4 linked regions of the Homo sapiens genome follow. The protein of the gene in region 4 purifies or fractionates together with the protein of the main gene of each other region. This does not show direct contact. Each region holds a gene or a part of one and is shown on either strand. Other genes may lie near its edges.

Evidence for each region.
Region 1: the proteins of CCDC136 (region 4) and CCDC88A purify together in Homo sapiens (affinity purification with mass spectrometry; 2 studies listed by BioGRID and IntAct, with this or other methods). This does not show direct contact.
Region 2: the proteins of CCDC136 (region 4) and GCC2 purify together in Homo sapiens (affinity purification with mass spectrometry; 2 studies listed by BioGRID and IntAct, with this or other methods). This does not show direct contact.
Region 3: the proteins of CCDC136 (region 4) and CCDC77 purify together in Homo sapiens (affinity purification with mass spectrometry; 2 studies listed by BioGRID and IntAct, with this or other methods). This does not show direct contact.

The regions. Positions count from the first base shown.
Region 1 is NC_000002.12:55,409,846-55,416,871, reverse strand, and holds part of CCDC88A (girdin), read left to right. Parts: intron 1-7,026. UniProt on the Homo sapiens protein: Bifunctional modulator of guanine nucleotide-binding proteins (G proteins). Acts as a non-receptor guanine nucleotide exchange factor which binds to and activates guanine nucleotide-binding protein G(i) alpha subunits.
Region 2 is NC_000002.12:108,452,191-108,459,216, forward strand, and holds part of GCC2 (GRIP and coiled-coil domain-containing protein 2), read left to right. Parts: intron 1-208; coding exon 209-276; intron 277-7,026. UniProt on the Homo sapiens protein: Golgin which probably tethers transport vesicles to the trans-Golgi network (TGN) and regulates vesicular transport between the endosomes and the Golgi.
Region 3 is NC_000012.12:397,357-404,652, reverse strand, and holds the start of CCDC77 (coiled-coil domain-containing protein 77), read right to left. Parts: upstream 3,010-7,296; 5' UTR 2,969-3,009; intron 1-2,968.
Region 4 is NC_000007.14:128,808,942-128,815,967, forward strand, and holds part of CCDC136 (coiled-coil domain-containing protein 136), read left to right. Parts: intron 1-508; coding exon 509-703; intron 704-1,197; coding exon 1,198-1,425; intron 1,426-2,320; coding exon of another isoform or gene 2,321-2,411; intron 2,412-2,858; coding exon 2,859-3,371; intron 3,372-3,766; coding exon 3,767-3,988; intron 3,989-5,696; coding exon 5,697-5,978; intron 5,979-6,672; coding exon 6,673-6,990; intron 6,991-7,026. UniProt on the Homo sapiens protein: May play a role in acrosome formation in spermatogenesis and in fertilization.

The sequences.
Region 1 (7,026 bases), on a different chromosome or scaffold from region 4:
AAGATCAAATTTATCTTAATAAATTATTTAACTGATAGGGCAACAAAATATACATTGTTTTATAAGCTGTATTTTGCTAATTTTGAAGTCATTAGGATTTCTGTTAAGCACTTTACTTAGATTAATGTATGCTTTAATGTACTCTATTATAAAGTGTCAGTTGTAACTCTATACCTAGTAAATGTAAAAGTTAGGCCTAGTCTAATTTCTACAGTACATTTAGTTACAGAATTTGTGAGCAAGAACCCTTTGTAAATGAAACTATTTATATATTTTCCATGTTTCTTGTGCTTGGAATTCAATGAGTGTCTTGGATCTGTGGGTTTATAGTTTTTATCAAATTTAGAAAAGTTTCAGTCATTATTCCTAGAAGAAAATATATACATATATATATATATATATATATATATATATATATATATATATATTTATTTATTTATTTATTTGACCTCTTCACCCTTTTGGAAGTCCAGTTACATATATATTAGTAGCTTTGATGTTGTCTTAAAACTTACTGATGTTTAATTCAATTTTCTTTCAGTCTTCTTTGTTTCATTTTGGATAGTCTGTTGTGATGTCTCCAAATTTATTAATTTTTTCTTCTATAATGTTTAGTCTGCTCTTAATCCCACCCACCATATTTTTCATTCCAGATATTATAACTTCATCTTTAGAAATTGTCTTATATCTTCCATGTCTATGTTTTTCATGCTCTGTCTTTTCTCTAGCTTCTTGAACATATGGAATACAGTTATAATTGGCTTAATGTCTATGTCTGCTAATTCTGTCTGTGTCATTTTGGGGTTGGTTTCGGTTGATTGATATTTCTTCCCATTATGGATTCTGTTGCTTTTGCATGCCTGGTGATTTTTTTTTTAATTTGATGCCAGTCATTTGAAATTTTAGCTTGTTTGGCGCTGGATATTTTTGTATTCCATTAAATACAAAAATCTTGAGCTTCGTTCTGGGATGCATTAAGTTACCTGAAAACAGTTTGATCTTTTGGGGACATGCTTTTAAGATTTGTTAGGCAGTACTACTTTGTCACACTGTTGAGGCAAAACCCCTCTGAATACTCCAGCTGGTGGAAACAGGACCTACTTGGTGGTGTTCGCTCTCAGTCTTTTTGGTGGTTCTTTCACTATCTTTGGGTAGTTTCCTCACACTTATATTCTGATAAGTACTCAGACTTGAGGGATACCCTCTGCAGATCTTTCTCACTGTTCAACTCTGTTAAGTACTCTGCCCTGTGTACTTTAGCTACCTTGCTGTCTCCAGACTCAGTTCTGTCCCCTCAGCTCAGACCATTGTGCTCTGCCTGGATTCCCCTCTTCCTGTTCTGTGGCCTGGAAACTCTTTCAAGGCCATAATGCTGGAGCAGTTGTTGGATTCATGCTTGTTTCCCATCGATTGGGGATCACTGTCTTTTGTTGCCTGATGTCCAATGTCTTGAAAAACGTTTTATGTATTTTGTCTTTTTTTCCCCCCAGTTGTTTCAGGGAGGAGGGCAAATTTGGTCTCTGGCCACCAGTAGAAATATGTTTGTATACTTTTTTGTTTTTCAAGATGGGGTCTGGCTATGTTGCTCAGGCTGGAATATGTGATCATAGTGCATTATGGCCTCAAACTCCTGGGGTCAGGCCATCCTCCCACCCTAAACATCTGAGTAGTTGGGACTACAGGCACGCGCACCACAATGCCTGGCTGTTTATATACTTTTAATTACATTTTTGCTCTGCTAGTCTTATATTACTGCTTTTAGATGTGAGATGGACTTTTTTTATAGGAACCTTTTTTTTTTTTTTTGAAACAGAGTCTCGCTCCATGCCCAGGCGGGAGTGCAGTGGTGTGATCTCAACTCACTGCAAGCTCTACCTCCCGGGTTCACGCCATTCTCCTGCCTCAGGCTCCCGAGTAACTGGGGCTACAGGCACCCACCACCACGCCTGGCTAATTTTTTGTATTTTTTTAGTAGAGACGGGGTTTCACCGTGTTAGCCAGGATGGTCTCGATCTCCTGACCTCGTGATCCGCCTGCCTCAGCCTCCCAAAGTGCTGGGATTACAGGCATTAGCCACCACACCTGGCCAGGAACCTTATTATATAAGTTTTTTCATCTAAAATGTTTATTAAGACTAAGAAAATTGATTAATTTAATGACTCTGTTGTTGCTGTTTTGCACCCAGACTCTGAAAGTGAAGAGCTAACTTCTTCATGACACTGTTTACTGACTCTGCCTCACAATTTTGAAGTCTTTTCACTGACTTGAGATTTACTGTATTCAGAGATGAATCCTGAATTTCATTGAGTAGCTTTTTGAAGCAAATAATCTCTGTTAGAACTTGTAACATGACTTCAATCGTCTTAAACTAATGGGAAGGAAGAGGAAAGCTATTCAGAGATCTGGAATGATGGGCCAGCTCTTCTGTACGCTGTAGGGCATTTTCCTACTTCAGTGGATTGAAATCTTTTTTCTTTATTGTTATCAGTTGTAGGGCTTGGTGACAGTGAAGTAGAAATAATTATTTTCCTGTTTGAGATGTCATTTAATTCTGGAGCCAGTTTTGAATATTACTTGCTGTGAGTTTTTAAGGAATTTGTGACATTGTAGTTAATTTCATACTCCTAAAATTTTAAAAACGTCCAATTCATATTACCCAAACGGTTGAAAATATGGATGTCTTAGGATTTTAAGTACTGAGAAAATTGTTAATAGTATCAGAACAATATTTGGAATTATTATTTATGATTCAACCCTATTAGATAGTTATAGAGAGCTGTACTTGGAACACTTGGTAATTGTGATAAACTTGTTATGGCTTTTCCTTTAGAATTTTGGGTTTGAAGGGACTTCAGAAGTCATCTGCCCTTTTTTGTTTGTTTGTTTGCTTGTTTTTTTTTTTTGTTTTTGTTTTTGTTTTTTGAGACGGTCTTGTTCTGTTGCCCGGGCTGGAGTGCAGGGGCATGATCACCGCTCACTGCAGCCTTCACCTCCCGGGCTCAAGCTATCCTCCCACCTTAGCCTCCCAAGTACCTAGGACCACAGGCACGCGCTACCATGCTTGACTAATTTTTGTATTTTTTGTAGAGATGGAGTTTCACTGTGTTGCCCAGGCTGGTCTCAAGCGATCCACCCACCTCAGCCTCCCAAAGTTCTGGGATTATAGGCACAAACCAGCCTGACTCTTTGCTTGACTCTATTGACTAGGCTGTGAGTTTCCTGAAGCCAGGGACTCTATCTTTTGTCTCTGTATTCTTAGGACAGTGTTTGACACACAGTACATTCTTGATATATTTCTGTTGAATGATTGAATAATACAGCCATGTGTAGTAAAGTGGAATGAATTTGAGCCTTATGTCAGATAGACATAGACTTGGGTTCAGTTCTAGCTGTGCTACTTATTGGTATGTGAGCCTAATATCTCCAAATTACAGTTCCTACATTTATAAGATGGGAGATAATGTTTCCCTTCCTGATGGGGAAGGATTATCTACTAAGGCAGGGACAGATAAGTCTATTTTCTGTTTTGTTGACCCACTATATCCCCAGTGCTGGTTGCTGTCATTATTATTATCCTGTGCTATGCTATATCTACCTACTTATGGCTCCTCAAGTAAATCATGATAGTTCACAGCTTAGTTTTTTTGTTTGTTTGTTTGTTTTTGAGACAGGATCTCACTCTGTCACCCAGGCTGGACTGCAGTGGCACAATCGCAACCCACTGCAACCTCAAACTCCTAGGCTGAAGCAATCCTCCCACCTCAGCTTCCCAAGCAGCTGGGACTGCAGGCATGTGCTACTGCACCTGGCTAATTTTTTAAAATTTTTTTTATAGAGACCGGGTCTCACTTTTTTGCCCAGGCTGGTCTTGAATTCCTGGGTTCAAGTGATCCTCCCACCTCAGCTTCCCAAAGTGGCTGGCATTACAGGCATGAGCCACTGCGCCTGGCCGACAGCTTAGTTTTGTATGATCTCTGTTAGTGTCACCTCTATATAGCTGTATGATCTTTAGTAAGTTACTTAATTTGTAAGTGGGATAAAAAGTCACAGGATTGTTATGAGAATCAAATAGAATAATGTATGTACAATGCTTAACATATAGAAAGTGTCCAATAAATGTTAGCTCTTTATTGTTTTATTTATATTATTATCATTAGAATTATTTTCTTCAAGACCAGCGGTCCCCAACCTTTTTGGCAGCAAGGACTGGTTTCATGGAAGACGATTTTTACATGGAGCAAGGCTGAGGGGAGATGGTTTCAGGATGAAACTGTTCTACCTCAGATCATCAGCCATTAGATTCTTATGAGGAGAGTGCAACCTAGATCCCTCGCATCTACAGTTCACAATAGGGTTTGTGGTCCTGTGAGAATCTAATGCTGTTGTTGATCTGACAGGAGGCAGAGCTCAGGCAGTAATGCTTGCCCGCCCACCACTGATCTGCTGTGTGGCTTTCCTAACAAGCCATGGACCCAATCCATGGCCCAGGGGTTAGAGACTCCTGCTCTAGACTATCCTTCCCCTTTTCTTTGACTAACCAATTCCTGCTCTTCCTTTAATACCTTGTGAAGTCCCCAGGCAGAGTTGTTTTCTTCCTTATGATTCGGAAGTACCTTCACCTGCGTAGCTATTGCTTTGCAGTATTACTGTTTAGGGGCTAGATGTTTTGTCTCACATATTACTAGCACCTAACCTAGTACTTAGCATGTATCACTAGCACCTAGCATAGAAGTTGGCATGTCGTAAGTTGTAAGTAAATGTTGAAGGAATAAGTGAAGATAGCTGCAATTTTATTAATTTTCAAAATTTTGAGAATACCTTCTAGTTTTAGTACTGTAGAATTTAGTTTATTTTTTAGTTTGTCTTCTGTTTCTCCTTTTTGTTTGTTCTCTCTCTTTCCCCGTATTTGTTTTAATTACCTTTATTGGATATTTTTCCCACCGATGTTATATCTCCTTTGAGGCAAGGTGATAGGAGCAAGATTTCATGGTCCATGGTTTTTTATAGTATTAGAATATACAGTGCTTTCAGTTTGGTTTCCAATAACTTTCCTGTCCAATATGTTGAGTTTTTTTTTTTTTTTTTTTTTTTTGAGACGGAGTCTTACTCTGTCGTCTAGGCTGGAGTACAGTGGCGTGATCTCGGCTCACTGCAACCTCCTTCTCCCAGGTTCAACCAATTCTCCTGTCTCAGCCTCCTGAGTAGTTGGGATTACAAGGTGCCCACCACCGTGCCTGGTGAAGTTTTGTGTTTTTAGTAGAGACGGGATTTCACCATTTTGGCCAGGCTGGTTTCGAACTCCTGACCTCAAGTGATCTGTCCACCTGAGCCTCCCAAAATCTCATGCTGGGATTACAGGCATGAGCCACCGTGCCTGGGCCATGTTGAGATTTTTTTGTCCACAGCTTTGTATTGGACTGTCTTCAAGAAAAGTCCATTGTGATTGCCTCATTCTCAATATGATTCATATGTAGTTAAACTACAGAAATGATGAGAACCTAGAGAAGAACAGGTGAACTAGTTGTTATACCTGAGAGTATTTTTAAATTTTTTAACTGAAAATTTTCTCTTAATATATATTATGGGAGACTAGTTCTCACAGGATAAATGGAAAGGAAGACCAGTTCTTTCAAAAGGACACCAGCTGACTTTCTTTTAGGATCCATGAAACAGTTTGATACCATTCTAGGCATTAAGTTTTCAATATTCAGAAATAGTATTTGAGATTATACTTGGTACTGGGACATCTGTATAATACTTAATTTATTAATTAGTAAACTGGCTGCTTTTGGAGAGTCAGAGTGGTGGGAGGGCAAAAACAAAAACATGGGCTTGAAAGTTTAAATCCTGAATCAATCATTTAATATTTAGCTAGTTATTGAAACTGGAAAATTACTTTAAATGTTCTCTTTATTCCTGATTCTATTTTTATGCCTTCTTAGATCTATTTTACTAGTTTAATAATTTTTTTTTTTTTTTGAGACAAGGCCTCTCTCTCTTGCCGAGACTGGAATGCAGTGGCGAGATCTTGGTTCACTGCAACCTCTGCCTCCTGGGCTCAAACGATCCTCTCACCTCAGCCTCCTGAGTAGCTAGGACTACTACCATGCCCAGCTAATTTTTCTTTTCTTTTTTTTGTTTTTTGTTTTTTGTAAAGGCAGAGTTTTGCTGTGTTGCCCATTCTGGTTCCAATCTCCTGGGTTCAAGCTATCCACCACCTCAGCCTCCCAAAGTGCAGAGATTAGAGGCGTGAGCCAGTGTGCCTGGCCTACTTTAATAATTAATAAAAATAGGTGGATAAAACCCATCAACTTCACTCTGAGTGAGAGGAGATCTGCCCCTAACATTTGTAAGATCCAGGATAAGCATCCATTTACCACAATAGGCCTAAATATTTAAAGCTTATAAACCAGGCCAACAAATCATTATCTATATTCTAGTCTTTTCTCTTGATAAATATACCTTCATAATGACTTGAAAGTTTCAAATTTAAAATCTGTGGAATTTAGAATTCATAAATTCACAGTTTTGCAGCAGAGTGTGGTTAAGCCCAACCTCCTCCCGTCATCTCTGGCTCTTTCTAGCACCACAAAGAGGTCTCCTGTACATGCTGTGAACACCTTGCATGCACGCACAAGGTCTAAGCTCTTGTACTCCCATCCCCAAACAAGTACTCCTTGGCCCAAGGGTGTACACAAGTGTAGCACAGTCTTTTCTAAGGACAGACCTAGGAAAGAGGCCTGTGTGGGCCTTCAAATTGAGTTAGAAGTGCTTGGGCAAGAAATTGCAAAGTTCTGGGCACCTGGAGTGTCATTTAAAAGTGGGGAGGTAGGCCAGACTTGGGGGCTCACACCTGTAATCCCAGCACTTTGGGAGGCTGAGGCGGGTGGATCACTTGAGGTCAGGAGTTCAAGATCAGCCTGGCCAATATGGTGAAACCCCGTCTCTAATAAAAATACAAAAATTAGCAGGGCATGTTGGCGGGCCCCTGTAATCCCAGCTACTCGGGAGGCTGAGGCAGGAGAA
Region 2 (7,026 bases), on a different chromosome or scaffold from region 4:
GAGGAAGTGAGTACAGGTTGGGAGGAAACAAAATTGGCCATGTAATGCTGAAGTATAGTGATGAGTGCAGAGATTAATCATACTATTCTGCTTAAATATATTCTAATTTGCAGATTTATGGGGGGTTTTGTGAGAATGTACTTATCAGTTTCCCAGTAATTATGTTCTTTATTTCTGAACCGGAGTCCTTTATTTTTTAATTGTTTAGAATTGGAGAAAGAAATTGAAGAACTCAGATCAAAACCTGTTACTGAAGGAACTGGTGATATTATTAAGGTAATTATTACGTTGGGAAATGTCTAAAGAGAAATAAAATTTCCCTGAGGATTGTCAGTCTGCTAGAGGCTATCTGGCTTTCTGTTTCTGTTCTACTTCCTCTCTGCCTTGGTTGTTTTTACCTATCTGATTCACTGTAAAAAGAGGGGGTTAATGACCTCTGGGTCTCTTTCTGTTCTGAAATTATTATTCTACTCTCTTCCCACGTATTTTCTTTTTTCTTTCTTTTTTTTTTTTTTTTTTTTTGAGATGGAGTCTCACTCTGTCACCAGGCTGAAGTGCAGTGGTGTGATCTTGGCTCACTGTAACCTCTGCCTCCCGAGTTCAAGCAGTTCTCCTGCCTCAGCCTTCCAAATAGCTGGGACTACAGGCGCCCGCCACCACACCCAGTTAATTTTTGTATTTTAAGTAGAGACGGGATTTCACCATGTTGGCCAAGATGGTCTTGCTCTCTTGACCTCACGATCCGCCCGCCTCAGCCTCCCAAAGTGCTGGGATTACAGGCGTGAGCCACCACGCCCAGCCCATATTTTCTAATTATGGTTGTTACTTCATTCTCTGCTCTTCCCCAGCCCCCTGAAAACCTGGCCATGCTCAGGACTTAAGTGATTTTAGGTGTACAGTATATAATCTATAGATAGATCCATATCCCTGGACATGTCTACTGACCCAGATCTCACAGTTGTGTTTCCCTCTCACACATTTCACTTATCTCATCAAACTCAACCAAATTGCTTCCCTTGGTTAGACCAGTGGCACCACAGTTTTTTATACCTTTTGACTTTAGAGACACTTTAACTTCTCTGTTTCCTTTATTCTCTATATGTGTCAGTCACCAGAGACCTATTATAGCTTTAAGATATTGTTCCAGTTTATCTTTTTTCTCTCTATTTCTATGGCTTTATGTTAAACACATCAAATACTTAACCTATTTCAATAAAAACCTCACTGGGTTCTCTTTCTCTTTTTAGTCTTATATAATACTGCCAGATAACAAAATATTGTTTTTATTCCCCGTTTAAAAACCTGAGTTGCAGGCCAAATGCAGTGGCTCACACCTGTAATCCCAGCACTTTGGGAGGCCAAGGTGGGAGGATCACTTGAGGTCAGGAGTTTGAGATCAGCCTGGCCAGCATGGTGAAACCCTGTCTGTACTAAAAATACAACATTTAGCTGGGCGTGATTGCCCACACCTGAAATCCCAACTACTCAGGAGGCTGAGGCACGAGGATTGCTTGAACCCAGGAGGCAGAAGTTGCAATGAGTTGAGATTGAGCCACTGTACTCCAGCCTGGGCAACACAGCAAGACTCCGTTTTTAAAAAAAAAAAAAAAAACACAAAAAATCTGAGTTGCTTATTCTTATTTCCACTCCCTTAATGCTAACAAATGCTTTTTCATTCCCTCACTTTCATTGCCCGCCTTAGGCCAAGCTTCTGTAAAGTTTCTTTTACATCTCAGAGCTCTGAAATACTGTTTTCACTGCTTTTGCATAATATCCGTTGGTTATATATTTATTTATTTTTATTTATTTATTTATTTTGAGACAGAGTCTCGCCTTGTCGCCCAGGCTGGAGTGCAGTGGCACAATCTCGGCTCACCGCAAGCTCCGCCTCCTGGGTTGACGCCATTCTCCTGCCTCAGCCTCCCAAGTAGCTGGGACTACAGGCACCCGCCACCATGCCTGGCTAATTTTTTGTATTTTTAGTAGAAACAGGGTTTCACCACGTTAGCCAGGATGGTCTCGATCTCCTGACCTCGTGATCCACCTGCCTCGTCCTCCCGAAGTGCTGGGTTTACGGGCGTGAGCCACTGCGCCCAGCCTGGTTATATATTATCTTATTTTCTCATCAGTGGCTCCCCACTTGTGAGCAGTGAACTACTGAGGGACTCCCAGAGAGTTATTACAAGGGGTCTTTAAATCCATATGCATGTCACACAGTATCATTTTGTTCTTTATTTAGTTACAGTGTATGAAGCTAGAATGATGTGCACAAATGTCATTTCATTTTATAATGTACTGTTTCATTTAAGTATTACTGAGTTCACAGTAGTCTTCTTTGTATATTTAGTCATTATATGTTTTCTTAATCCATGATAGCCACAGTACAACTATATGTTAATTAAGGAAGAAGGTCGATAACACCCAGACTGCCTGAGTCAGGCTTTCAAATCCTTGTTCATCTACTGATCAGCTGTGTGACCTTGACTAAGTTTCTTAAATTCTTTCTCTATGATTCAGTTTTGTCATCTGTAGAACAGCGATAATAATACTTTCTGTTTGTAGGATTGAGGTACAAACAGGATTGATGTAGAAATGTAGGATTGATAAGGTAATATATCTACTGCACATAGAACTGGGTTGGTCACATAAGTACCCAATAATTGTTAGTTATCATTGTTATTACTACCATTTATTATTTCTGGGGGATTTTTTTTTTTCTTGAGATAGGATTTCTCCCTATCGCCCAGGCTGGAGTGCAGTGGCGTGATCTCCGCTCACTGCAACCTCTATAGAGTGTTAGAAAACACTCTAGAAAGTTTTTTATCCATTAACTCTTATAATACTTTTTACAGAATTGCATTTCAGAATAAGAACATTTAAATATCTACCTGCTGTTTCCTCCTTATCACTCATCAATGTATTCTCCCACTGTCAAAACTACTCCTAAAGACAAGATTAGAAAATTTCAGCCAGGCTCGGTGGCTCACATCTGTAATCCCAGCACTTTGGGAGGCTGAGGCGGACAGATCACCTGAGGTCAGGAATTGGAGACCAGCCTGGCCAACTTGGTGAAACCCCATCTCTACTCAAAATACAAAAATTAACCAGGCATGGTGGCACGCGCCTATAGCCCAAGCTACTTGGTAGCTGAGGCAGAAGAATCGCTTGAACCGAGGAGGCAGAGGTTGCAGTGAGCTGAGATAGTGCCACTGCACTACAGCCTGAGCAACAGAGTGAGACTCCGTCTCAAGAAAAAAAAAAAATTCTCCAAGTTAGCCAACTTTACCTTTAAGGTTTTTTTTCTTTTCCTTCTTTTTTTTTCCTGATCCATTATATTTATACGTATTCATGGGGTACATGTGAAATTTTGTTAAATGCACAGAATATATAATCATTAAATCAGAGTATTTACTATCCACAGCCAGGTATTTATCATATATATGTGTTGTGTACATTTCAAGTCTTCTGGCTATTTTGAAAAATATTTATCTTTCCCTGTCTTAGATTTTACTTAACATAATGACCTCCAGCTCCATCCATATTCCTGGAAATGGCGTGATCTTATTCTTTTTTATGGGCATATAGTATTCCATTGTGTATATATACCACATTTATCCATTCATCCTTTGATGGGCACTTAAGTTGATTTCATGTATTTGCTATTGTGAGTAGTGCTGCAATAAACACAGGAGTGTATATATCCCTTTGTTATATTGATTTGTTTTCAATGACTACCAATATTGGGGTTTTTGGATTGTATGGTAGCTCTATTTTTAGTTTTTTGAGAAATCCCCAACTGTTTTCTTTTTTTTGAGACGGAGTCTTGCTCTGTCGCCCAGGCTGTAGTGCAGTGGCATGATCTTGGCTCACTGCAAGCTCTGCCTTCCAGGTTCACACCATTCTTCTGCCTCAGCGTCCTGAGTAGCTGGGACTACAGGCGCCGGCCACCAAGCCTGGCTAATTTTTTGTATTTTTTAGTAGAGATGGGGTTTCACCATATTAGCCAGGATGGTCTCGATCCCCTGACCACTTTGGGAGCCAGCCTCGGCCTCCCAAAGTGTTGGGATTACAGGCGTGAGCCACCGCTCCTGGCCTGAGAAATCCCCAACTGTTTTGTATAGTGACTATGCTTACCTACACTTCCACCAACAGTGTAGAAGAGTTCTTTCTCCACATTGTCATCAATATCTGTTACTTTTTTTCTTCTTAATAGCCATTCCTTATTGTGGTTTTGATTTGCATATCCCTGATGATTAGTGATATTGAGTATTTTATCATATACTTCTTGGCCATTTCTTTGTCTTTTAAGAAATGTCTATTCATGTCCCTTGCCTATTTTTTAATGGGGTTATTTTTTAATGTTGTGTTGTTTGAGTTCCTTGTATACTCTGGGTATTAGTCCCATATTGGATGAGTAGATTGCAAATATTTTGTCCCATTTAAGAGGTTGTCTTCTTCATGCTGTTGATTGTTTCTTTTGCTATGCAGAAGCTTTTTAGCCTATAATCTCAGCATTAAGGGAAGCCATGGCAGGAGGATCACTTGAGCCGAGCAGTTTGAGACCAGCCTGAGAAACATAGCAAGATCCGTTTCTACAAAAAAATATAAATTAGCCAGACATGGTGGAACATGCCTGTAGTCCCATCTTCTTGGGATGCTGAGATAGGAAGATCACTTGATCCCAGGAGGTTGAGGCTGCTGTGAGCCATAATCACACTTACTGCACTCCAGCCTGGGTGACAGAGGGAGCCCTTACATAAAAAAAAAAAAAAAAAAATTTAAGATGCCTTTCAGTTTAATGTAGTCCTATTTGTCTGTTTTTGTTGCCTGGGCTTTTGAGATCTTAGCCATAAAATCTTTGCCTAGACCAATGTCTTGATGCATTTGCCCTGTGTTTTCTTCTTTTAGTTTTACACTTTTGGGTCTTATATAATATAAGTCTTTAATCTATTTTTGTTGATATTTGTATCAACTAAATGGTGAGAGATAGGGACTCACTTTCATTCTTCTGCATATAGTTACCTGGATTTCCTGGCACCGTTTGTTAAGAGGGTGTCGTTTGCCCAGTGTGTGTTCTTAATGGCATTGTCGAAGATCGGTTGTGTATAAATATGAGGATTTATTTTTGGGTTCTCTATTTTGTTCCATTGGTCTGTATGCTTGTTTATATACCAATACTTTGTTGCTTTGGTTTCTATAGCCTCGTAATATGTTTTGAAGTCAAGTAGAATGATGCCGCCGCTTTATTTTTTAACTCAGAATTTCTTTAGCTTTTCTGGCTTTTTTTTTGGTTTCATGAAAACATTAGGATTCTTTTTTCTGTTTCTTTGAAAAATGGTGTTGGTATTTTAATAGGGATTTCATTGAACTGTACATTAGTTTGGATAGTATGATCATTTCAACAATATTTTGTGAGCATGAAATGTCTTCCTGCTTATTTGTGTTCTCTTCAGTTTCTTTCATCTGTGTTTTTGTAGTTTTCATTATAGAGATCTTACACTTCTTTGGCTTTTGTTTGAGCTACTGTAAAAGGTGTTGCCTTCTTGATTTCCTTTTTTAGCTATTTTATTGTTGGTATATAGAAATGCTACTGGTTTTTGTATGTTGAATTTGTATCCAGCAACCTTACTGAATTTATCAGCTCTAAGAATTTTTTGATAGTCTTTTGTCATCTGTAGAGAGGGACAGTTTAACTTCCATGTTTCCAGTTTGGATGTCGTTTATTTCTTTCTCTTGCCTAATTGTTCTGGCTAGGACTGTCAGTCCCATGTTGAATAGTAGTGGTGAAAGTGGGCATCTTTGTCTTCAGTTCTTAGAGGAAAGATTTTCAGCTTTTCCCCATTTTTGTGTGATGTTAATGTGAGTTTGTCATATGTGGCCTTTATTATTTTGAGGTATAATCCTTCTGTGCCTAGTTTGCTAAGAGTTTTTATCCTGAAGGGATGTTGAATTTTATGAATTCCTTTTTCTGCGTCTAGTGAGATGACATACGACTTTTGCCCTTTATTCTGTTGATGTGATATGTCACATTGATTTGCATATATTGAACCATCCTTGCATCCCTCGAATAAATTCATTTGATCATGGTGTATTATCTTTTCAATGTGCTGTTAGATTTGGTTTGCCAGTATTTTGCTGAGGATTTTTGCATTGGTGTTCATCAGGGATATTGGTTGTTGCTTTCTTTTTTTTTTTTTTTTTTTTGCTGTGTCCTTGTCTGGTTTTGGTATCAGGGTAGCACCAGCTTTCTAGAATGAGTTAGGGAAAATTGCCACCTCTTCAGTATTTTGGAGTAGTTTCAGGAGGATTGGTATTAGGTCTTTATACATTTGGTAGAATTCAGTGTGCATCCATCTGGTTCTGGGCTTTTCTTTGTGGGGAGACTTTTTATTACTGATTCGTTCTTGCTACTCATTATTAATTTGTTCAGGTTTTCTATTTTTTCCTGGATTTTTCTTTGATAGGTTGTATGTTTCCAGAAATTTATCCATTTCCTCTAGGTTTTCCAGTTTGTGGGTGCATAGCTGTTCATAATATTCTCTGATGGTCTATTTATTTCTATGAGAATGGTTGTAATGTCTCCTTTTTCATTTCTGATTTTATTTAGGTCTTCTTTTTTGTTGTTGTTAGCCTAACTAGTAGTTTATCAATTTTGTTTATCTTTTTGAAGAACAAGCTTTTCATTTTGTTGATCCTCTGCCTTTTTTAAAAGTCTCTATTTCATTTAGTTCTGCTTTGATCTTTATTAGTCGTTTCCTTCTGCTAATTTTGGGTTTGGCTTTGGCTTGTTCTTTCTGGTTCATTGAGGTAAATCATTAGATTGTTTGAAATCTTTTTACTTTTTGGATGTAGGCGTTTATTGCCATAAACTTAGTATTCATGTCCTGCTTTTGTTGTATCACACAGGTTTTGTGATACAAAAAATCACATAGGTTTTGTGATACAAAAGCACTGCTTTTGTTGTATCACATAGGTTTTGGTATGTTGTAGTTTCCATTTTCATTTGTTCCAAGAAATTTTTTGATT
Region 3 (7,296 bases), on a different chromosome or scaffold from region 4:
CACTGTTGCACATGTCTACGAAAAGTTGTCTACACTCACCTCTCTGGCTGCAAGACGGGGCCTTGCTATGTTGCCCAGGCTGGCCTTGAACTCCCGGACTCAAACAATCCTCCTCCCTTGGCCTTCCAAAGTGCTGAGATTACAGGCATGAGCCACTGAGCCAGGCCTCGGGCTTCTACTATGACATCTAACCAAGCTCTTATTGGTCAGCAGACATCCAAATTAATAAATTCAATTGCTCTTTTCTGTTTCTATCCTCCTCCATCCAATAGTTACTCCTTCACTTGTATTCTTAATTAGATAGTGCCAACTACCTATTTATTTATTTATTTTTTGAGACAGAGTCTCACTCTGTTCAGCCCAGGCTGGAGTGCAGTGGCACGATCTTGGCTCACTGCAACCTCCACCTCCTGGGTTCAAGTGATTCTCCTGCCTCAGCCTCCCCAGTGGCTGGGATTACAGGCACCTGCCACTGTGGCTAATTTTTTTTGTATTTTTAGTAAAGACAGGGTTTCGCCATGTTGGCCAGGCTGGTCTCGAACTCCTGACCTCAGATGATCCACCCACCTCTGCCTGCCAGTGTTGGGATTACAGGCGTGAGCCACTGTGCCTGGTAGTGCCAACTACCCTTTAAAAATATATCACTTTGGGACCGGACCTTGGCATGGCCAGGCCATGGCAAGACCCTGTCTTTACCAAAATTTTAAAAATTAGCTGGGCACAGTGGCAATGTAGTCCCACCTGCTTGGTGCGAGGATCACTTCAGCCTGAGGGTTCAAGGCTGCAGCGAGCAGTGATCGTGCCACTGCACTCTAGCCTGGACAACAGCGCAAGACCCTGTCTCAAAAAACAATTAAAATAGGCTGGGCACAGTGGCTCATGCCTGTAATGCCAGCACTTTGGGAGGCCAAGGTGAATGGACTGCTGGAGGTCAGGAGTTTGAGACCAGCCTGGGCAACATGGTGAAACCCTGTCTCTACAAAAATTACAGAATTAGCTGGGAGTGGTGGCACGTGCCTGTAGTCCCAGCTATTCAGGAGGCTGAGGCAGAGGATTGCTTGAGCTTGGGAGGCAGAGGCTGCACTGAGCTGAGATTGCCCCACTGCTCTCCAGCCTAGGTGACAGAGTGAGACCTTACCTGGAAAAAATAATAATAAAAATAAATATTGCTTTGTAGTTGAGAATGTGGGCTCTGATATCAGACTTGGGTTTGAGTCAAAGCCCTGCCTCTTATTAGCTGTGTACCTCAGGCAAGTTATCCTCTCTAAATTTCAGTTACTTCTATGTCATAGGTTGGTGTACGGATATAAGGCCGAGGGACAGTGTTTGACACATATATAAGCACTCAGTAAATGTGGACTATTATTATTATTGACAATTTTACTCCCTTGGCTCAGAGGTTCTGTCTTCAAGTTTCTTTATCATTTCCTCTAACCATTTCTTTGGGAACATCATTATTCCTCCTGTTTTTATTATTAACTCTGTCATCTAAAACACTACATGGCATACAGTAAGTAACAATTACATGTTGAATAAATAAACGACATCTCTTTCAACCTCTTGATTTGAATTAACAAAAATGTAGTGGACATTTTCACCCATAGTCCCACTGGCACTTGAAACGTTTAACTTAAAAAAGAAATCACTCAAGTTAGGTATTTTTTTAGCATCTCAAAGCTAACATTTCCTAAACCTAACACATCATCTTTTTATCCAAACATGCCCCTTCTGACTTTCCTATTTTAGTTACTAATTCAGCGTTTCCAAGCAACCGGGAGTTGGCAACTTAAATTCATCATTTGATCACTCATTCTTCTGAACCTCCTGTCTAACCATATGAATATCTTGTATATTTTATCTCCACAATGACCATGTTAATTCAGAGTCTCAATACTTCTTACCCACACCATTACAACACCTTAACGGTTCTACCTACTCCTTGCGTCTCCTGGACCATTTTCTTTAATAAAATACATCAGTAGCACCTCATAGCCTAAAGCATTAAATCCAATTTGTTAGCCTAGAATTCATGGCTTTCTACATAAGGGCCAAACCTAACTTTCCTGCCTTATTTCTCTCTACTCTCCTAAATGTACCGTTTCCAGATAACTTTCCTGCCTCCATACCTTTGTTCATGAGCTTCCCTCTAGCTGGAACACAACTCCCTCCACAACCCTCATAATTTCACTTAACAAAATCTAGTCTGTACATGAAAACTCATCTTAAATACCACCTCCTTTTTCTCTTTCCTGAGTCTCCCCATCCAAAATGATTTAGCAAAAATGATCTAAGTGCAAAAGAACTGCCTTTGAAATTATCTACAAGTCAACATATTAGAGTGCTTTATTGCTATCGTTTCTCCCATGCTAGCGTGCGCTCCCTACAGACAGAAATCGCGTCTTACTCTTCATTGCCTCTTCCAAAGGAACAATGCCTTTGTTTATAGGTAAATTAACGGGTTTCAGCTAGGGTCTCTGCACCTATCTCCAATACCCTTGCTTAGATATATTCTTATAGCTTGTCTACTAACAATTAACATTTGTGTAGCACTTTGAATTTTTTTCTTTTAGCCACGTGACAAATCTGTACAATTTATTATCCCAACAACCGTTCAGTATTTTCACTATCCCTTATTTCACAAATGAGGAAACTGAGAGCTAGACCAGCGTGGGGTTAGAGTACACCGGAACGCATCTCCAGGGCGCCCGAATCCCGTACTCCTTTTCCCACTTCATCCCATTCTCGACCGCCTCACTGCTCCAGGTCCCAACGCTCCAGCACTCCTGAGGTCTCTCCCTTTGCACATTGGAGCTTTCCTCCTCCGGTCCCCAGCCCCTCCACGGACACCACATTCAGGCTCACGTCCTCTCCTCCGCACTGCTTCCGCAGTTACTTCTCCCTAACCAGATTTTCTTCCCAAGGCTTCTTACCTAACCCCTTCACCCCAAACCCGAAACTCTATACTCACGACACACTAAGACTCCGAGTCAGGGAACGCAACTGAAAAACAAAAGTCAAACCAAGGAGCGGCGCGGCGCCACTGAGCGTCCCTGAATCCGTGCAATCGCGAAGAAGTTTACATGGCCCTTTGGAATGCGCACCAATGGGAAGGGCCTTCACACAGAGGCCCGCCCCCATCTCGCCCCTCCTCGCGGTGCTCCCGACCGCGCAGAGGTCTCTGGGAAATGTAGTTTTCTTCTGCCTGGAGCTCTGCGCGGGGCGACGCAGCTGGGCTGCAACCCGCTCCTCCAGGGACGGGTAGTGTGACGTTTGGGGTCAGAACGCACCACTTTCGGGCACCCCCACTTAAGATTGCTCAACTGCTTTGAGCTCAGGTACTTCGCGTTCATGGTACATATATGTTGTAATTTCCAAGCTTGTCTCAAGAGATAAAGATTCTAAGAAAAGTTTCTTCTTCCATGACCGGGTGGCCTAGAGCCAGGATAGGACCTGAGGTTCAGTTTCTACGGTCAGGGGACTATGTATTAAAATTCTACTATTTGTTCCATAGCAAACACTGCTTCCTTTTCCGGAGAAATGTAAGACACTGGGCTTTAATGATAAAAGCAAGTTCAAAATCCATTATGGTCTTATCTTTCCAGAAAGCAAGGTGTAAAGGTGGGGGAAAAGCACTTTCGTCTCAGAATTACAGCTACTGGTATGGAAAAGCTGGGGCCCTTCGCTGGTGTGAGTCCTAAGGATGTCTAAATGGAACGTGCATCTGCTACAGGCTCGCACTTTCCTTTATTGCGCTTCCCAGGTAACTGTTTTTACAAATGTAAGGTTTGTGGCAACTCTGCATGGAACCAAATCTATCTGCGCCATTTTTCCTACAGCACAGGCTTACTATGTGTCTCTGCACCACATTTGGTAATTTTCACAATATTTCAAACTTTTTCATAATTATTGTATATGTTATGCTGATCTGTTATCCTTTATATTACTATTATAATTGTTTAGGGGCACCATGAACCATGCCCATATAAGATGGCAAACTTAATTCATAAATGTTGTGGATGTTTTAACTGCTCCACAGACCAGCAGTCTCCCTGCCTTTCTCCCTCTCTTCTTGCCTCCTTATTCCTGTGATACAACAATATTGAAATTAGACCAATTAACAATCCTACAGTGGGGGTTCAAGTGAAAGGAAGAGTCACACATCTCTTACTTTAAATAAAAAGCTGAAAATGATTAAGCTCAGTGAAAAAGGCATGTTGAAAGCCAAGACAGGATGAAAGCCAGTCTTCTTGCACCAAAGTTAGCCAAGTTGTGCATGCAAAGGAAAAGTTTTTGAAGGAAATTAAAAGTGCTACTCCAGTAAACACAAAAATGATAAGAAAGTGAAACAGACATTGCTGATATAGAGAAAGTTTGAGTGGTCTGGATAGAAGATCAAACCAGCCACAGCATTCCCTGAAGCCAAAGCCTAATCTGGAGCAAAGTCCTAACTCTTCAATAAAATGAAGGCTGAGACAGGTGAGGAAGCTGCAGAAGAAAAGGTGGAAGATAGCGGAGGCTGGTTCGTGAGGTTTAAGGAAAGGAGCTATTTCCGTTACTTAAAAGTGCAAGGTGGAAGCAGCAAGTGCTGATGTAGATGCCGCAGCAAGTTATTCAGAAGAGCTAACTAAGGTAATTGATTAAGGTGGCTAAACTAAACTACAGACTTTTGATATATATGAACCAGCCTTTTATTGGAAGGAGATGCCAAGTAGTACTTTTGTAGCTAGAGAGAAGTCAATACCTGGCTTCACAGCTTCTAAGAACAGACTGACTCTCATGTTAGGGGCTAATGCAACTGGTGACTTTAAGTTGAAGCCAGTGCCCATTTACATCCCTGAAATCCTAGAGCCCTTAAGAATTATGTTAGATATAGTCTGCCTGTGCTCTATAAATGGAACAACAAAACCTGGATGACAGCATATATGTTTATAGCATGGTTAACTGAGTATTTTAAGTTCACCGTTTTATGTATGTTTTATTTTAAGTCCTACTGCTCAGGAAAAAAAGGATTTCTTTCAAAATATTACTTCTCACTCACAATGCAACTGGTCACCCAAGAGCTCTGGTGGAGGTATGCAAACAGATGAATGTTGCTTTCATGCTTGCAAACACAACAGACATTCTGCAGCTCATGGATCAAGGAGTCATTTTGACTTTCAGGTCTTATTAAGAAATATATTTCAGGCCGGGCACGGTGGCTCACATCTGTAATCCCAGCACTTTGGGAGGCTGAGGTGGGCGGATCACCAGGTCAGGAGATCGAGACCAGCCTGGCCAACATGGAGAAACCCCCGTTTCTACTAGAAATACAAAATTAGCTGGCCATGATGGCGCATGCCTGTAATCCCAGCTACTCAGGAGGCTGAGGCAGGAGAATCACTTGAACCTGGGAGGCGGAGGTTTCAGTGAACTGAGATCGTGCCATTGCACTCCAGCTTGGGCAACAAGAGTGAAACTCCGCCTCAAAAAAAAAAAAATATTTCATAAGGCTATAGCTGCCAGACATAGTGATTTCTCTGGTGGATCTGGGCAAAGTAAATCGAAAACCTTCTGGAAAGGACTCACCACCATTCTAGATGTCCTTAAGATCATTTGTGACTTGGCTTGGTGAGATGTCTCACACCTGTAAACCCAGCACTTTGGAAGGCCAACGTGGGTGGATCACTTAAGCTCAGGAGTGCATGACAAGCCTGGGCAACATAGAAAACCTTGTCTCTATAAAAAAATACAAAAACTAGCCAGGAGTGGTGGCATGCACCTGGCTACTTGGGAGGCTGAGGTGGGAGGATTGCTTGAGCCTGGGAGACCAAGGTTGCAGTGAGCCGAGATTGTGCCACTGCAGTCCAGCCTGAGTGACAGAGCAAGACTGTGTCTCAAAAAAAAAAAAGTAAAAATATATTTAATAAAAAAATTTTAAAAAGAACATTTGTGACTTATGGGAGGAGGTCAATATCAATAATAACAGGAGTTTGGAAGAAGTTAATTCCAATCCTCTTGGATGTCTTTGAGGGGGTTCAAGACTTCATGGACGAAATAACTGCAGATGCTGTGGAAGTAGCAAGAGAACTAGAATTAGAAGTGGAGCCTTGGGAGGCTGAGGCAGGAGAATCGCTTGAACCCGGGAGGCAGAGGTTGCAGTGAGCCCAGATCGCGCCACTGCAGTCCAGCCTGGGCAACAGAGCAAGATTCTGTCTCAAAAAAAAAAAAAAGTGGAACCTGAAGATGTGACTGAATTGCTGCAATCTCATGATGAAACTATGGATGAAGAGTTGCTTCTTATGAATAAGTAAAGAAAGTGGTTTCTTTAGCTGGAATCTACTCCTGGTGAAGATGCTGTGAACATTGCCAAAATGACAACAAAGGGTTTAGAATATTCCATAAACTTAGTCGATAAAGCAGTTGCAGGGTTTGAGGATTGACTTCAACTTTGAAAGAAGTTCTACTATGGGTAAAATGCTATCAAACAGCATTGCATGCTACAGAGAAATCTTTCATGAAAGGAAGAATCAATCAATATCATGAAAGGAAGAATGAAAACAACTTCATTGTTGTCTTATTTTAAGAAATTGCCACAGCCACCCCAGCCTTTAGCAATCAGCACCATGATCAGTCAGCAGCCCCCAACATCAAGGCTAGACCCTCCATCAGTGAAAATATTATGACTTGGCTTAGACGATCATTAGCATTTTTAGAATAAAGTATTTTAAGGCCAGTCGCGGTGGCTCACGCCTGTAATCCCAGCACTGCAGGAGGCTGAGACGGGCGGATCACGAGGTCAGGAGATGGAGACCATCCTGGCTAAGACAGTGAAACCCCATCTCTACTAAAAATACAAAAAATTAGCCGGGCGTGGTGGCGGGCGCCTGTAGTCCCAGCTGCTCGGGAGGCTGAGGCAGGAGAATCACTTGAACCCAGGAGGCAGAGGCTGCAGTGAGCTGAGATCGCGCCACTGCACTCCAGCCTGGGTGACAGAGCAAGACTCTGTCTCAAAAAAAAAAAGCATTTTAAATTAAGGCATGTAAATTTTTTTAAAGAAATAATGCAAACTAGAAATAATGCACTAGACTACAGTATCGTGTAAACACATAGCTTTTTTTATGTACCAGGAAACCGAAAATTTCGAGCAATTTGCTTTATGGTGATATTCACTTTATTATGGTGGTCTGGAACTGAACCTGCAATATCTCCAAGTTATGCCTGTACTCCCAAACCTGCTTTTTTCTCCCTTGTGATTTTCTCTGTTAATTACATTAATATCTTCCCAAACATCTCGGCTCGGTATCTTTTGTCTATTTC
Region 4 (7,026 bases):
TTACCAATAGCGCATACTTTCTAAAGATTTAAAGAGAGAATTAGGAAAGCAAAAATGGGAAAAATTAGGGTGAAATTAAGTCCTTATTTGTAAGGAGTGTAGTTGCATTAAAAAACAACTGGGGTTAATGAGAATAACAGGAGCTAAGAGTTCCCAACAGGGTGGGAATATGGTGTATAAAGGAAAGGGCCGGAGAAGAGGAAGGGGGAAATGAGAAAGGGGCATCGATAGCATTCCCCATCAAACTGCCCCCAGAAAGGAATGGTGGAAGTTTAGAGCAAGGCCAGCCACCAGTCTAGAGCAACCTGCTCTGAAGGAGCAGCCTGCAGGGGATCCCCAATCGGTATCTAAACAGCCAGAATGCATTGTGGCTTGGGGTGACCAGTCCAAGGTGACTGCACAGGGAGAGGATCACAAGAGGCAGGAGAGCGCAGAAGTGCTCTGTTAGCCACCCAAGAAGCTTACCTTACAGAGTAACCACCCCCTCCACACCCGCCCCCACCCACAGTGTGACACACTGCTGTCCAGACTGACAGAATTGCAGGAAAAGTACAAGGCCAGCCAGAAGGAGATGGGGCAGCTGCAGATGGAGCAGTGTGAGCTCCTGGAGGATCAGAGGAGGATGCAGGAGGAGCAGGGCCAGCTGCAGGAAGAGCTGCACAGGCTCACACTGCCACTGCCAAAGAGTGGCCTCTTACTCAAGGTAACTCTGCCACAGGCAGCTGCTAACTGCGGGGAAGCTGCTCTGAGAAGCTTCCCTGTGTGACTAGGGAAAAATAAAAGGGTGGGGATTGAACTTTTTCTCTTACCAACCACTCCTTACTTTCTCACCACTCTCCCCAAACCAAAAAGCTCCATAGAGCCAATTAGAGTTTTTCTTATAAGGGCTTTAAATCTTAAAATACCTTTTATACTCAGGAATCTGTGCAGCAGTTTATATTTAGGTATTTAGTCCATCTGGAGAAAATGCACCTGAAGCCACTTTGTAAACTACAAAATATATCCCAACACAAGAGACCACTGCCACTTTTAGCAGGTCTCCATAGAAGGGCTCCCCCGTCCCCAGATGGGCTCTGTGAAGTCAACCCTGAGATTCTTCAGGGAATTGTTCACAACGGGGATGAGGCACCAAGGAGGCATCAGACTTCCTGTGTGACCACCACCATCCCTTGCCTCCTTCCTTCTACTCCGCCTCAGAGTCAGGAGCTACTCACCAAGTTAGAAGACCTGTGTGAGCTGCAGCTGCTCTACCAAGGCATGCAGGAGGAACAGAAGAAGCTGATACAGAACCAAGACTGTGTATTAAAAGAACAATTAGAGATCCACGAAGAGCTGCGACGTTTCAAAGAGTCTCATTTCCAGGAAGTGTTGGAGAATCCCGATGATTCCAAATTGGCTAAGTCCTCCAAATGTAATCGAAACAAGGTAACCATAGCAAGAGGTAGGGAGACAGTTCTCCTGAGCACAACAGCATGGCAGAGAGAGTGGGCACCGCCGAAGGGTCAGAGTTGGGAAGGCGTGTTTGGCCAGGGGTAAGGATAAGGCAAAAGCCCTGCCTTTCACCAGCTGTGACCACTCACAGGCTCCATTAAGAGGTGGCTTTTAGATACGGCCTGAGGACCTCACCTAGATGCCATTATCCTTTATCACACTGATATTCACAGTGCCCAGTTGAAGCACTATGAGCACTCAGGGCAGAGCTGGGATGACCAGAAGTCTGTCATCAGATCATTCGACTCATTCCCAGTAAGATGTATAATATCAGTTTGGTGTTTGTTTGGATTCCTTTGGACTGACTCTAAATGTCATCTTTTTCTTGAGTGGAAAAGTACACTTCTCAGTTATCAAAATCTATCACCTTTGGTGTTCTCTATGAGGCAAATTTGGGGCCTTTCATTTCCAAGAGAAGAATTCCTAGCATATGGGGTTCTTAGTACTGACCACACTATCTTCATTGGAACTTTGGTGGCAGTAACAGAGCAAGGTCACAGGGGTTAGACCAGAAAATTGATGCCTCTCAAGTACCAGCAAGAGGTCATTCAGATGAGGTGACACAGGTGGAGATCACCATACAATTCTCTTCAGGGTTGGGGGATAAAGTTGTTCTGAGGTCTCAGCGTGGGCAAGGAGGGGCAGGTAGACAGTTTCGGTTTAGGCCAAATCTATTCATTCAGATCTTATTCTGAACAAGGAGAACCAGGGAGTAGCAGAAGTCAACACTGTGAGGCTGGATCATATTCCAGGGGCATCAGATGTCCAGGCTGGAGGCCTGGGTAACACAGCTGGGAACCAGGTATAAAATATTTCCTTAACTGATCAGATCTCATCCTGGACATCAGCAGCCAAGAAGCCAGGCCCAACATGCCCAGAGGCCAGATTCAGAATTGGGGCAGGAGATACAGGAACTAATAGTAAGACTTTGATTCCAATTCTTCATATTGCCGCATTCAAGGCCGGGGCTGATTTTAGAACTAGGGGTGGGCGAGGGGACTGAGCCTGAAGGTCAGGATAACAGGTATACCTGACTGAGAAGAGGGTGTGGTAGGGAGCCAGGGTGTTCTGGAAACCCACTCGGCACTGCTCCAAGGAGACAGGGATGTACCAAAGTGCAGAAACCAGCCGAAATGGGAGCCCGGAAATCATGGAGTATCTGCCCTGGGGAGATTTTCCCAAATGAGCAAGAAACTGATACATGCCAGTTACCTATAGGCTAAGTCAGAGACATAGGCCGGGGTGAGGTGGAAATGTAGGTGTGCCATTCTCTAAGGTGTGCTCTCAGACATCTGTACCAGGAGAGGTGCAGCTGGAAGGACTGAAGTGTCAGAGTAATGATACTGTCTCCCCACCCCTGCCCCCAGCAATCCAAGCTGCTCATGGAGCAGATGCAGGCCCTGCAGGTGATGTATGACGCCGGTCAGGCGAAGCAGGAGCTCTTGCAGCAAGAGCAAGGGAGGCTCCTAGAGGAGCGGAAGAGGCTGCAGGCAGACTTGCAGCTCTGCCTGGAAGAAATGCAGCTGCTTCAAGTCCAGTCCCCTTCTATAAAAATGAGCCTTGAGTCCTACGGGAAGAGCTATGGTAGCATGGTCCCCAGCAATGAGAACTGTCGCAAGACTTATGATACCACTGTGGATGACAATGAGAGCTATTACAAGAGTTACACCAGCACCCAGACCAGCAGCAAGAGCTTTCTCAAGAGCTATGACAGCAGCACCAGTGCCAGTGAGGCCTATGGGAAGAGTTACTGCACTACCAGCAACAGCAGCATTACCTATAAGAAGAGTTACGGCAGCACCAGTAGCTCTGACACCTGCCAGAAGAGTTTTGTCAGCAGCTGCACTGACGAGGAACCTGCTGAGCCTGAAGACATGGAGGTAATGGTTGCCAGGTGACAGGTCAGGCAGGGGACGATGGACTCTTGTCTTTTTAAGAGATACATCGCCAGGGGAAGGGGCAAGAAGTGTGGGAATGGGGTCAGAACTGACCTGGGGAACTATTGGAAGTAAGCGAAGCCCTCTACCCATGGCAGCCTGGTCTCCCGCTCAGCCCTCTCATAGAGAGAATCCCCCATCTGGACAGAGGCCCATAAGATTCAGTCCGTTTCCTCACCACAGCCACGATGCTCTTTATGGGGGTAAATATAGTAATCCCCCGCGGGCATCTCTGGATCCTGGTGGCCATTGTTTGGTATCCAGGGAAGGGCCCAGCAGAGTAGGGCGGAGCTTAGGTGCTCCTCAGGGTGCTATTGTTGCTCCCCCACCCCCCGCAGCGCTTTGAGGAAATGGTTGTGAAAGTGCTGATCAAGCTGCAGGCGGTGCAGGCCATGTACCAGATAAGCCAGGAGGAACACAGCCAGCTGCAAGAGCAGATGGAAAAGTTACTGGCCAAGCAGAAAGACCTGAAGGAAGAGCTGGATGCCTGTGAAAGGGAGTTCAAGGAGTGCATGGAATGCCTTGAAAAGCCCATGGCCCCCCAGAACGACAAGAATGAGGTAACCACTGTCAGGGAGGCAGGGTTTCCTCTGGCAGCCCCTGGAGCCATAGAGGTCATGGCCACTTCATAGAGGCTAAAGAGAGGGACAAAGCAGGGAGAATATGCACCTCAGAGGCTGGGCAGTCTGCTCCATCCCTGATGACATTTCCCAAGTGCCCGTGGAGCTGGGGTTTACTAGTCATCAGGACTTCTCTCATCGAATGATTTCTCTCTTTCTCCCTTTGCCACTTCTGTTCTCTTTTGCTTTGTGTTCTAGACCACTTCTGTAGAACTGTATTTTTGCATTTGCCAATCTTCTTTCATCATTTTGTGTGCATTTGCCTTGTCTCCCGGTGCACCAACTAGGAGCACCAACTAGATTGCAAGCAGCTCAAGGACAGGGACATGTCTCCTTTTGGATCGCTCACAATGCCAAGAAGAGTGCTCTGCACCCCCTAGGAATGGGACAGAAGTCTTGTCTCTGGCCAGGGGTTCACGGTCCAGTGGGGGTCTCTTTGTATACACACGGGAGAGATTCAGAGAGCAGCGAACACATGGGTCCAGATTGGCTAGTATTGGTACCTACTGAGGGGATGGTTGTGTGCTGCCATCAGCCAAGGAAGACAAAACCCGAGATCAGGGAGCAGGATGTGACTTGCCTCTGTTTCCAGGGTGAGGTGCAGGAGCCCAGTACACACTTCAGGAGTGTACAACACAGTTCTTTAAGTAATTGTTCCTGTTAGAGAGATGGGTTGGATGAAGTAGGAGTTCCCATAAAAAGAATTCTAGGCCAGGTGCGGTGGCTCACCCCTGTAATCTCAGCACTTTGGGAGGCCGAGGCGGGTGGATCACTTGAGGTCAGGAGTTTGAGACCAGCCTGGCCAACTTGGAGAAACCCCATCTCTACTAAAAATACACAAAATTAGCTGGGCATGGTGGCGCATGCCTGTAATGCCAGCTACTCAAGAGGCTGAGGCAGGAAAACCGCTTGAATCCAGGAGGCGGAGGTTGCGGTGAGCCAAGATCATGCCATTGCACTCCAGCCTGGGCAACAAGAGTGAAACTCTTGTCTCAAAAAAAAGAATTATATAATAAATCCCTGAGGTTCAGAATTGGTAGCAGCCCTATTGTTATTCCCCAGTCACAGTAGAAAACACCATTTAAATCATTGTTTTGACCTTCTTTTTTTTTTTTGAGACAGAGTCTTGCTCTGTCACCAGGCTGGAGTGCAGTGGCACGATCTCAGCTTCCTGCAACCTCCGCCTCCTGGGTTCAAGTGATTCTCCTGTTTCAGCTTCCCAAGTTTCTGGGACTACAGGCGCGCTCCAATAAGCCCAGCGAATGTTTGTATTTTTAGTAGACATGGGGTTTCACCATGTTGGCCAGGCTGGTCTCGAACTCCTGACCTCAAGTGATCTGCCCACCTCAGCCTCTTGAAGTGCTGGGATTACACTGGATGGCAAGTGAGCCGCTGCGCCCTGCCGTTTTTTTCATCTTATTAGATGGACATCATCAGGTGCCTCAAGTTAGGAGAAGCTATTTGTAAAACTATTTGAGAGGCTCATTTTCCACCGTTGAATATTTTCTTTATTGTCTACTTCCTATGGGCTTTAACAGGGAGATTTCTGAGACAGTGACCCCCAAGCAGGGCTGAGTTTGGTTGCGTGGTCAGCCAACTGGTTGCATAACCAGCCAACTCTGGGTAACTGGCCCTCCACTACCAACAGATCAAAGAACTGCAGACCAAGCTGCGGGAGCTGCAGCTGCAATACCAGGCTAGCATGGATGAGCAGGGGCGGCTTCTGGTAGTGCAGGAGCAGCTGGAGGGGCAGCTGCAGTGCTGCCAGGAGGAGCTCCGCCAGCTCAGGGAGAAGAGGCCTTCTGTTGTCAAAGAAGCCCGGGGGAAGAATGCTAATAAGAACATGAACAAGAATGCCAATGGGGTTAAAATGAAAAAGGTGACCAAGCCATGCTCGGATACTTCTGAGAGCGACCTTGAGACCAGAAAGGTGAGTAGTAACCTTGGTAGCCAGATAAGCAGAAAGGAGGAGGAGATCCTGGGAAGAAGCATTGCCTCCACAACCCTTTCAACCAGGCAAGGGATTTGTAGAGAAGCTTCTGGGATCTCTGAAGTGTCTACAGTGGTTCCCATCTTAATGGAAAGTGGGTGCTCCCTTTTCCTGTGAAGTTATGGGGAGAGTGGAACACAGACAACTCACATCGGGAGGTGCAGCCCCAAAGGACCACAGCCCCTAGGCTGGACAACTCCTTCAGTTTGCCCAGCCCCATTTGTTGGGGCTCCTGTTCTTCCTGGGTTACATGCCCAAGAGAAGAACCAAATAGATGAAGAGGGAGGAATTTGTTCAAAGTAGTTATGTACTAATAAGTGAAAGAGGATTGGGTAAAAGAAGAGTCACTGTAGGGGTGGGAAGCAACAATTTAGGTGCAGAGCCCAAGACTCTTTAGTTGTGGTAGCTGTTTGAAATGGCTTAATGGCCAACAGACATAGTGGCCCTGAGAGGTGAGGTGTGATGCCCTCTACATATGCTCAGGGGATTGGCTCACAGTCCCAGAGCACCGGGCCACACCCTTGCACTCTGACATGCTGGAAGTCATGTTTCCTGGAGCTAGTACAGCATTGTCATGAGATTAGGAGCTTCACAGGTAACGCAGCCGCCATCCTGCCCTACTCCCACCCCACAGAGTCTGGAGGTAGTGCTGTACTACAAGGCCAGCCAGAGGAAATTAGATGGACTAGCAAAAGAGGAGGAAAAGAAAGAGGAGATGGAGGAGGAAAAAAAGCAAGTGAAAGAGGAAGCAAAGGAGCAGTGTGGGGATGAGCTAGTTGCTGAGCCAGCAGATCCTGAGGAAGCTAAATCCACAGAAGATCAGGAGGAAAATGAAGAGGACAAAGAGGAAGAGGAGAAGGAAGAAGACAGTGAAGAGGAGGAGGATGACGCCGACTCTTCCCTTGAAAGTCCCGAAGAAAATAACCCCCTCAGACTTTCCGAGAGCAAAAAGGTAACCAGAGCCAAAGCCTAGATCAAGTGGGAAGTG